2 linked regions of the Homo sapiens genome follow. The protein of the gene in region 1 purifies or fractionates together with the protein of each later gene. This does not show direct contact. Each region holds a gene or a part of one and is shown on either strand. Other genes may lie near its edges.

What was found. Proteins that work in one complex are often made in the same cells at the same time.
Region 2: the proteins of C1orf94 (region 1) and HERC4 purify together in Homo sapiens (affinity purification with mass spectrometry; 2 studies listed by BioGRID and IntAct, with this or other methods). This does not show direct contact.

What each region holds. Positions count from the first base shown.
Region 1 is NC_000001.11:34,174,526-34,180,711, forward strand, and holds the start of C1orf94 (uncharacterized protein C1orf94), read left to right. Parts: upstream 1-2,381; 5' UTR 2,382-3,264; coding exon 3,265-3,584; intron 3,585-6,186.
Region 2 is NC_000010.11:67,988,284-67,991,783, reverse strand, and holds part of HERC4 (probable E3 ubiquitin-protein ligase HERC4), read left to right. Parts: intron 1-584; coding exon 585-644; intron 645-768; coding exon 769-880; intron 881-1,383; coding exon 1,384-1,573; intron 1,574-2,948; coding exon 2,949-3,121; intron 3,122-3,500. UniProt on the Homo sapiens protein: Probable E3 ubiquitin-protein ligase involved in either protein trafficking or in the distribution of cellular structures. Required for spermatozoon maturation and fertility, and for the removal of the cytoplasmic droplet of the spermatozoon.

The sequences.
Region 1 (6,186 bases):
AAAAGAAAAAAGCCATTAGGGTGTGTCCTAATCTAATATGACTGGTGTCCTTTAAAGGAGTGATTAGGACAGGGACACATATACAGGGAAGACCATGTGAGGACATAGGGAGAACACAGCCAAGTGCAAGCCAGCGAGAGAGACTTCAGAGTGAAACTAACAATGCCAACATCTTGGTCTTGGCCTTCTAACCTCTAGAATGGCAAGGAAATAAAATTCTGTTGTTTAAGCCACACAGTCTGTGGACTTCGTTATGGTAGCCCTACCAAACTAATACACCAAGGCACAGAGTAACTTGCCTAAGCTTACATTGCCAGAAAACGTGAACTCAGAATCTGAACCCAGGGACTCTGGTTCCCGAGAATATGTATTTAATGATAAGAAATGTTCTCTGTGCTGTCCAATATGGTAGCCACTAGCCATATGTGGCTACTGAGCACATAATATGTGGCTAATGCAAATGAGGAGCTGAATTTTTCATTTAATTTATATAAAAATAAAGTTAAAATTAAAACAACCCCATGTGGCTAGTGGCTACCATATGGACATAGCTTTATACTATTTCTAAGTACATCACTTAAGATTTTTGCAGAATTTTCTAGAAATCTCGTCTGTGCACTCTAAAAACATGCTCTATCTTTGTTCCGTATCCCTGCTGTATTTGATTTTTTTTTTTTTTTTTTTTGCAGTCCTTTCTGATTTAGCCCCCGTTGCCTGGTCTCCTGCTGAGGGGGAGAGGGAACAGGAAGAGTGAGTGAGCTGGCTAACTTCCAGAATCCTGGGGCCTGGGCAGTGCAGGGTCGTTGGCGTTCTGCTCTAAGCTTAAGGTGTTAGCCAACCAAATGCCAAGCAGCACAAACACTGAGTGACATTTTCAGAACTATTAATATTTCATCAGAAATGATCACTTTTCCTTTAAATACACTATTTTAAAAGGTTTTCTACATTCTTAACTATAATTTTATTCAGTCTAGGCCCTCAGAATTTTCCCCAAAGGAACACATCTTCAATTTTGTAATGAAAATCAAAGGAGAATGAAGCTCAGATTTCAAAATTTAGAGTAAACATTTCCAGGAACTCAGCCCCTCTGTAAAGAGCAAGGTTGCGTATTGGGCACCTACTGTATACCAGGCACTTTACATACAGTATACCATTAATTCATCCAACACATATTTTTTGAGTGCCTACTATGTGCCAGAAACATGATCCTCATAATTTATTAACACCATTTTACAGAAAAGGAATTCCTCTCATCCTTCTCAAATTTTTCTCCTCAAAGAAGTCGGCCTGGACCACCATGGAATATTGCCTCCCCTCTTCTCCCCAGTGCCTCACTTTGTTACTAGGTTGGTACAAAAGTAATTGTGGTTTTTGCCATTGCAAGTGATGGCAAAAACCGCAATTACTTTTGCACCAACCTAATAGTTATTTTCCATCAGAGTCCCATTGCATCTGTAATTATTGCTGCTTTACTCGCTTGGCTGGTTTGCATCGATCTCTCCTCGCTAGTATACAGGCTCCAGGAGAGCAGGGACCATGCCATTTTTGCCCACCCTTATGCTTCTTCAGTGCCCAGCAACTCATCGGGCACAGAGGAGGGGTTGCATCAGTACTGGGGGAATTATGAATGGGGATGGGAGAAGTTCAGAAAGTTCTTAAGGTCACACAGCTCGGAAATGAGTGTCAGGATTCAACCCAGCCCTGCATTTATAGACTGCCATCTTCCTCTATTTGTGTCCATTCTTCTTTCTTCCGTCTCCACCCTCTTGCTTTTCCTTTTCAGGGGAATTGCTAGAGAAGCAACCCCCTGACTCTCGGAACCAGAAAGTCTCCCTCAGCAGAGGTACTGTGTCAGTGCCCAATTGAATGAAGCCGCTTCAGTGAGGGTAGGGGCCTGTTGATCAGCAAACAGCTAACTTAGCCCTTCTCCCTGCACCTCGGACCTCCTACTCCTGCTCCTACCCACCTACTGAAGCTGTCTCAGTGGTCAAGGGCTAGATCAGGCCTAGAGTGCTGGGGTCTGAGTCTCAGCTTCCCTTTTCTCAGGGGGCCTTGGACGCAATCCCTTATGACTTTGAGATTCGCTTTCCTCCCGTGTAGAACGATAATAAAAAGTGGTACTAATTTCACGAGCTTTAATAGGATTGAATGTGAGCCCAGCGCTTGGCACAGGGCAAGCGCCCCATAAAATGGCAGTTAGGATTAAAATCGAGGTTGCCGGGGGACCCCCAGGCAGGAGCTGAGATTTGTGTGGAGCGGCGAAGTGGGGCGGCGGCGCGTTTGGCTTTGACTTCTGATCCCCCGAAGCGCTCTGGGGTCCTTTGGGCCCCACCCCCACCCACCCCACCGGCGGGTCTTGGGCTCCGAACCCAGGGCGCCCCGCGCACCGAGCCGTTGCGTTTGAAACCCACAGAAAGAATTCCCCCGCTCGACGACGGCGAGGGTGTGGGAGCTACTGGCAGGCAAATTGGTGGGAGCCGCCCGGCCCAGCCTGCCTTGCCGAGTCAGCGCGCTCTTGAGCCGCTGGGCCCTTCCCGGTGCCCGCCTGGCAGCGCGGCGCGGCTGGGGCAGGGGTCTGCTGGGGGCCGGGGACTAAGGGCTGTGGGCCCATCCACACACGCCTCATCCCTTCTTTCCGGGGGCAGCAGAGCAGCAGCGGGAGACCGGGAGCAGGAGGGGTAGGGCGAGAGAAAAGCAGGACCTGGGCCGGGGGTGGGAGTCGGGCCGTTGACGCTCGCTCTGCGAGGGGCTCCCTGGGAACGCCCAGGCGAGCGCCTCCTGCGGGGCCCCGCCCCCCGAGTGCCTACAATGGTGCCAGGCCCGCACCCAGTCCTCCGCGTGGCTTAGCGGGACAGCATGGGCTGAGCCCAGGCGCCGAAAGTTGTCACGGCGGCGTCGCAAGGGGGCAGTGCCAGGGACTGTGGGGAGAGCCAGCCCTCCCCTTCCAGCTGTTCCCAGATGTCATTCTGCCCGCCCAGGCGCCTGGTTCCTGAGCTCCGCAGCATTCCACTGTTCCTAAGCTACTGGTTTTTGTTGACTTTTAAATATTTTCTTCTAAGGGAGAGGGGGAGGGAGGCAAAAGTCAGGAAAGAGCAAATAAAAACAAATCAAAATAAGCCCTCCCCTCCCCAAAAGAAAGCTGTCCTCCACCCACCCCTCCCACACAAATAGAAGGCCTCTGAACCTAACCACCTTGCTGGAGCGAAAGCCAGACAGAACTGACCCACTTCTGCCAAGCCCCATCCTCATCTCCCTTTCTGGTGAATGAGGGGTGGTGGTGGTTGTGTTCTAGCCCTGGGTGGACAGAGGGGCTTCCAGAAAGAGAGGAGGAGGATGGCCAGCGGGAATGGGCTTCCTTCATCCTCGGCCCTGGTGGCCAAGGGCCCCTGCGCCCTGGGCCCATTCCCCAGATACATCTGGATCCACCAGGACACACCCCAAGACAGCCTAGACAAGACTTGCCATGAAATCTGGAAGAGAGTTCAAGGCCTGCCTGAGGCCTCACAGCCCTGGACCTCCATGGAGCAGCTCTCTGTCCCTGTGGTTGGAACTCTAAGAGGCAATGAGCTCAGCTTTCAAGAAGAGTAAGTACCCCCCTACTCCATTGGCAGCAAGGGAGGAGGGAGGAGATGAAGTCTGACCTTCTGGGGGAATGTTCTGGCCCACTGTTGAGGCTGGTGAAACCCTAAAGGCTGTATATTGCCCCCTCCATGGTCCTTTGTCCAAGCTTTATAGAAGAGCTGACCAAAGTTCTGAAGTTTTGTGGGTGAAGAGTCAGATTAGGGCTATATTCCAGGCTGCCTCTTCACCAGCCCGTTAAGCAGACATTTCTCATCCTAAACGCATGTGAATCTGAGGTCCTTGAAAAACCACCCTAGCTAAGGCTAAGGGTTATATGGCTTGTGGCTTTCCCCAGAAGCAACTAGAAGATCCTTCCCCTCTCCCACCTAAAGGCTAGGCATTCACATGGATGAGTCTGATGGTTTTAAATCACATCTGGAATTCCCTAATACAGGGAGCAGCTGTCCCATTCAGCCTCCACAGAAGCTGCTGCAAGAGCACACATCAAAATATTTACTGGGAAGGCACTGACATATTCAGAGGACATAATAGAAAATTAAAGTGCGGGAAGATGGCTGTAAATAGCCCGTTTCCGGGATGGGAAATCCTGTGTCTGGGAAACACAGAGCTAAGTGTTTCTCCATCAGGGCAAAGTTGGGCAGATATTGTTGAGGATGGATATTCGAAAGGAAAGGAAGGAGCAGAGAGGAAAAAGGGAAATTAGGAAAAGAAAGTAAATCTGCTGTGGTTATTAATACCGCCGTTGAGCACTTACTTATTTCACGTTTTGCATCTTCAAAGTGGACTGTAAACTTAATTAATGTTCCCAGAGTCCCTGTGAGGCAGGTATTAGTGTCCCCATTTTACAGATGGATTAAGTGTTAATAATTAAGAGCTAATTAAAGACTAACCGATAATTAAGTGTTGCCTGCTCCAACACATGCTACAGCTCAGTTCAGAGATGCTCTGGAGTTGGGGAGCCATTCAGGCATTTATCAGCTGCCTCGGGTTTCAGGGATGCCTAAGCAAGAGCTAAGAAGAAAAGCAAAGTGTAAATGACACCCAGCTCTACACTACCTGCTGTCCCTCTGTGGGCTCATTTACTTACTGCAGATGAAGGTGGAAGGCACTTTGGCTAGTCCTGCCTCCCTGCCCTGTGCTCAGCATGACAAGGCTCAGACAGGAATGGCCCATCTACAGCTAAAATCCTGCTGTCAGGCCCTTCAGTGGCACTGAGCCCTTCTCCCCTGCTCATTGCCATCTGCTCTGGGACAGGGCCTTGGCAGGAGGGCCCATGGGGCTGTGCTCTGCTCTCAATGGCCAAGAAGCTGATTGTCCACTTTGTGGACCAAGGGTCAGTAGCAATTTCCAGTAGATGGCATCCTCTTTGCCAGGTCACACAGAGTTAATGGAGACAGACTCGACTTCCAGTCTGCACTTGGCTGAAAATTGAACTGGTGCACCTTTGGCCAGCTGCTTAACTCCATTTGGCCTTTACTTCCTCATTTGCAAATTGAGGGTGATATGTGCTGCCTTGTCTACCTCAGAGTTGATAATGAGGATCCAATGTGATGGGAGACAGGGAAATGAAAGATGCATTATACAAATCAGGCTGCTCTTAACATGTACTTCTTCAGGTTGGGATTTGTTGTTGTTGTTGTTGTTTTTGTTGTTGTTGGCTTCAATCTGGGGTTCACACTATGCTCCATATACCTCAAGGTGCTTCAGGGGTCACTGTGGAGTCAAGTGGGCTGGTTGCTGGGCCCCAAAATCCATTTCAGCCAGAGCTGTTTAGCTTTTATCAGTTTTACTTACTAGAGTTCTGAGTAGGGCTGAATTTGAAAAACATGTTTCTGCTATTGAGAAAAGAGATAGGAAACCAATGACTTAGACGAATAAACGACATCCTAATTGTCAACCAAATAGAACACAATGAGCTATTCTTAAAATAAAGGCGGTGTGCTGGTGGAGTCAGATAACTCTGGTTTCAGATTCCATTTCAGCCCCATGCCATTTGAAGAATTTGTTACTCTTTAATTTATCTAAACTTTGGTTTCCTCATCTGCCAAATGGAGATTAATACTATACATTTTGTAGGGTTGTTGGAATGATTAAATGGGATATTTAAACATTTATGGTAATAATTCAGATTTGTAAAAATTCCTTGCAATTCAGATGTGATCATTTCTTTAAGCTCTACAATTATTGCATGAGGTAGGTACTCTTTTAAACTTTCCATCTCTTTTTACTTTTTATTATGCAAATTTTCAAACACATAGAATAATAATATGGTGAATATCTATGTGTCTATCACTGAGTTTCAATAATTATCACATTGTGCCATTCTGGTTTCAATTGCTACCTCCACCCCTCCATTTATAAGTGAAATTACTTTTACAGATAACGTGGCTGAGGTTTGGAGGGGTTAATTTCTTTGCCCAAGCTCCTACAGTTAGGAAGTAGTAGAGTTTCAGAAATGAAACCCAAGACCGCCTTGGCCCTGAGGCAATAATGTCGGCTGTCCTGTCTTAGAATCTGGGGCATCTTTGAATAGTCAAAATAGTTGGGAGTCCCATATACTGAATGATCACACACAGAGTGAAAAGCCAGGGAGCTGTTCTTACT
Region 2 (3,500 bases), on another chromosome or scaffold:
GAAATGTGTTCCTTCTGGTTTTATAATGGTCACTATCTTAACTTTTATACTTTGTGGAAGACTTGAGTATTATTTCTTTCTTGAATATTTTGTTAACTTGCCTAGTAGCACTTAAGATGTTATTTGTTTTTTGTTGGTATTTGGGATGATGGGTTGTATTTGAAAAGCTGTTTTGTTTCTCTAGCTTGTTTTCCAAAACTATAATTTTTCTGAAAATCCCAAAGGCATCCCAGATTAGGCTCACTGCCAATATAAAATGTTTAAAATTTTTTTAAATTAAAAAACTTTTTACATGAACATACACACTTAATTTTTAAAATACCATGTTTTAAAGCAGATAACATTGGATAAATGGATGAAAGTAATATTTAAGAAAGTCTAGAATAAACAGTAATACCTTCATCAAGTATTATTTTATCAGTCTTTAGCAATTTATGTAATTCTGATTCATCTAATTGGGTGTTAGAGGAGTGCTCTGTAGCATTAAACATTAGATTAATTATTCATTTTAATTCTTTTTTAAGAAAGGGTAAACAATTAAATTTCTGATTCTATGATTAAAAAAACTTTTTTAAATTTTTTAGTGAGATAGATGGAACGTTTTCTTCCTCTGGTTGCCTAAATGGAAGTTTTTTAGCTGTTAGGTAAGTGGCAATTCTTTAATATGCTGAAATTTTCAAATTTATTGTCTTAAATAGTATATCAAATTAAAAAATGAAATAATTTTAAATTTTTATTCTATTTTTTTTTTTCTTTTCTGTTTTTTAGCAATGATGATCACTATAGAACAGGTACCAGATTTTCAGGGGTTGATATGAATGCTGCTAGGCTTTTATTCCACAAACTTATACAACCTGATCATCCGCAGATATCTCAGCAGGTCTGTTTTTAAAGTATTATGTTTACAGTATTATCTGTTGATTTTGTTTTCTTTTGTTTTATACGTTTATAGCCTAATTTACTTTGCAGTTTCACAGACTCTTACGATGTGCTTTTAAAATAAGATTTTATTTTAAAGCATTTGTAATTTAGCTGTCAAAGATCTATAAATCTTTTCAGATGTTTGAAGCAGACCCTGAATTACTTAACATTACCACGTTGCTTAAGTTTGTGTATGGTTATAGAGGTAGAGAGTTTAAATTGAGACTTGTACACGTGATTTTTTAAATTCTCCAAGTAATGCTTAGGCATTAATTTTCATTGTGCTCCAAAGTATATTCATTGTAAGACATTGTCTTTCTTTTTTCTTCTTCACCATTTCATATTTGCTGTAGTGCAAAATTTTCCTTTTCTTTCTTTTCTTCCTGCCTTCCTTTTTTTTTTTTTTCTTTGAAAGTGTATTCATTTTAAATGAAGTAGGTTTTACTTTTTGTCAAAATATAGGTGGCAGCTAGTTTGGAAAAGAATCTTATTCCTAAACTGACTAGCTCCTTACCTGATGTTGAAGCATTGAGGTTTTATCTTACTCTACCAGAATGTCCCCTGATGAGTGATTCCAACAATTTCACAACAATAGCAATTCCCTTTGGTACAGCTCTTGTGAACCTAGAAAAGGCACCACTGAAAGTACTTGGTAAGAATTCTAATATTTTTTCTTTTGAAACCTTTTCTCTTTAAATGAAAATGCTTCATAAGTTCTTTTGCCATTTGCAGTTCTGCTGCCCTGCTTATTTGACACTGTCTTAGGCAAAAATGAACCTGTTTTTCCTTTTCTTGCTTTTGTCTAGTCTTTTGATTCTAGTTGTTGGAGTTGTTGAAAGAAAAACATGTTAGATATAGAAGTTCAATTAAACATAACAGCAGAGACAGTATTAGGAAAGTTAAAAACTGTCACCCGTATTCCTTTCCCTCATCGCCTTTAGTATAATCTTGCTATTAAAGAAGTAAAGGAGGAGGAACAATTAAAACTGAACAAACATGGGCTTTAAATCTTCTTGGAACCCTGATATAAGCCCTTTATCTTGTGTTTCCTTCACTTGCTAATTTCATGATATTTGATTTTATTTTTCTGCCTATAGACTAGATTTTATTGCTCATCTGATCTTGCACTTCTATCTCTTACTGTTCTGGTTTTTTGGCATAAAGTTTTCTCACTTTAATTTTTCTAATTGTCTAGATTTTATCTCTATTTCCTGGCCTTTATACTTTTTTTGCTACATTTAACCCAGTGCTTTTCTTTCTAATGGTATTTGTTAGATATGTGGAGCTGAGATATATAGAAGTAATAATGTCAGTACAAGAACTTTAAGGCTGAGGGTAAATGGAGGAAGCAACAAGCAAGGGGTAGAATATGGGAATCTGAGGGAAAAAGAGTCAAGCAGGGACTGAAAAGAGTATTGCTTTCCTGTTGTCAGAAGTTTTTGTATTCTTTCTGCCTGCTTCATAGGATTGAAGTGTTTGTACTTAGTAACTACAAATAGTGAATGTGGGGAAGGACCCATATGTTACACTTTACATTGTTCAGCTTCTGTATTTGATCTTCAGGAGTACCTTGCATTTTAAAGGTAGTGGTTCACAATATTTCAACCATATATTAAATTGAAAGATAAAAGTTAGAAAGATCCTTTAGTATTAGAGCAATACAATTTAAAGGATGTTTTGTTTAAAAATTGAAACTGTAATTTTCAAAACATTTTTTAAAAACTGGTTTTAATATTAGGTATAGTGGTGAGTTTTTTATATAACTTAGGAAACCAAGAATATAAATTCAACAAGACTTTCACACTTTATTTTTGCTTTTGAGAGCTTTTCGGACAATATTGTTTAACTTGGTCGGGGGGAGGTTTATAAACCTTACAAATGTTACATAAGATATTGTGTTATATGCATCTTTCTGGGGTTTTCTCAGGTTTAACAACTACTGTTTCAGAAAAAAAGTCAGTATGATTTTGAAAATTGTGATTTTTTAAAAAATTCATTTTATTTGCATGTTCACTTTTTAATAACAGAAAACTGGTGGTCAGTACTTGAACCTCCACTATTCCTCAAGATAGTAGAACTTTTTAAGGAAGTTGTGGTACATCTTTTGAAACTCTACAAGATCGGTATTCCCCCTTCTGAAAGAAGAATTTTCAACAGTTTTCTTCATACTGCATTAAAGGTTTTAGAAATACTACATAGGGTATGTCCAATCATTCCTTTATTTTCCTCTTTCCCCATTCCTATTAACAGATTGATACTGTTCATTTTAACATTAATCTATTAAAGATTTAGATTGGCAAAAACAATGCATATTATAGAAATTTGGAAAAGTTATCTATACTTTCTCTTAAAAGAAGTAATAAACCTGTCCTTTGGAGCTCTGGTCTTACCTGACTTTGTTAGGCATGTATAGATAACTTATCCATAGTTGGGCAGAACAATAACATACTAATGAGTTAGAATTCTCCTTATATTTCCTTATGAAGAATATAATTTGTTAGTTTGCATTATATGGTTTTTGTTAGCTGTAAGTGGTTATCTTGTGAAAGAGATTGGGTCCTAGTTGTAATTATGAACAT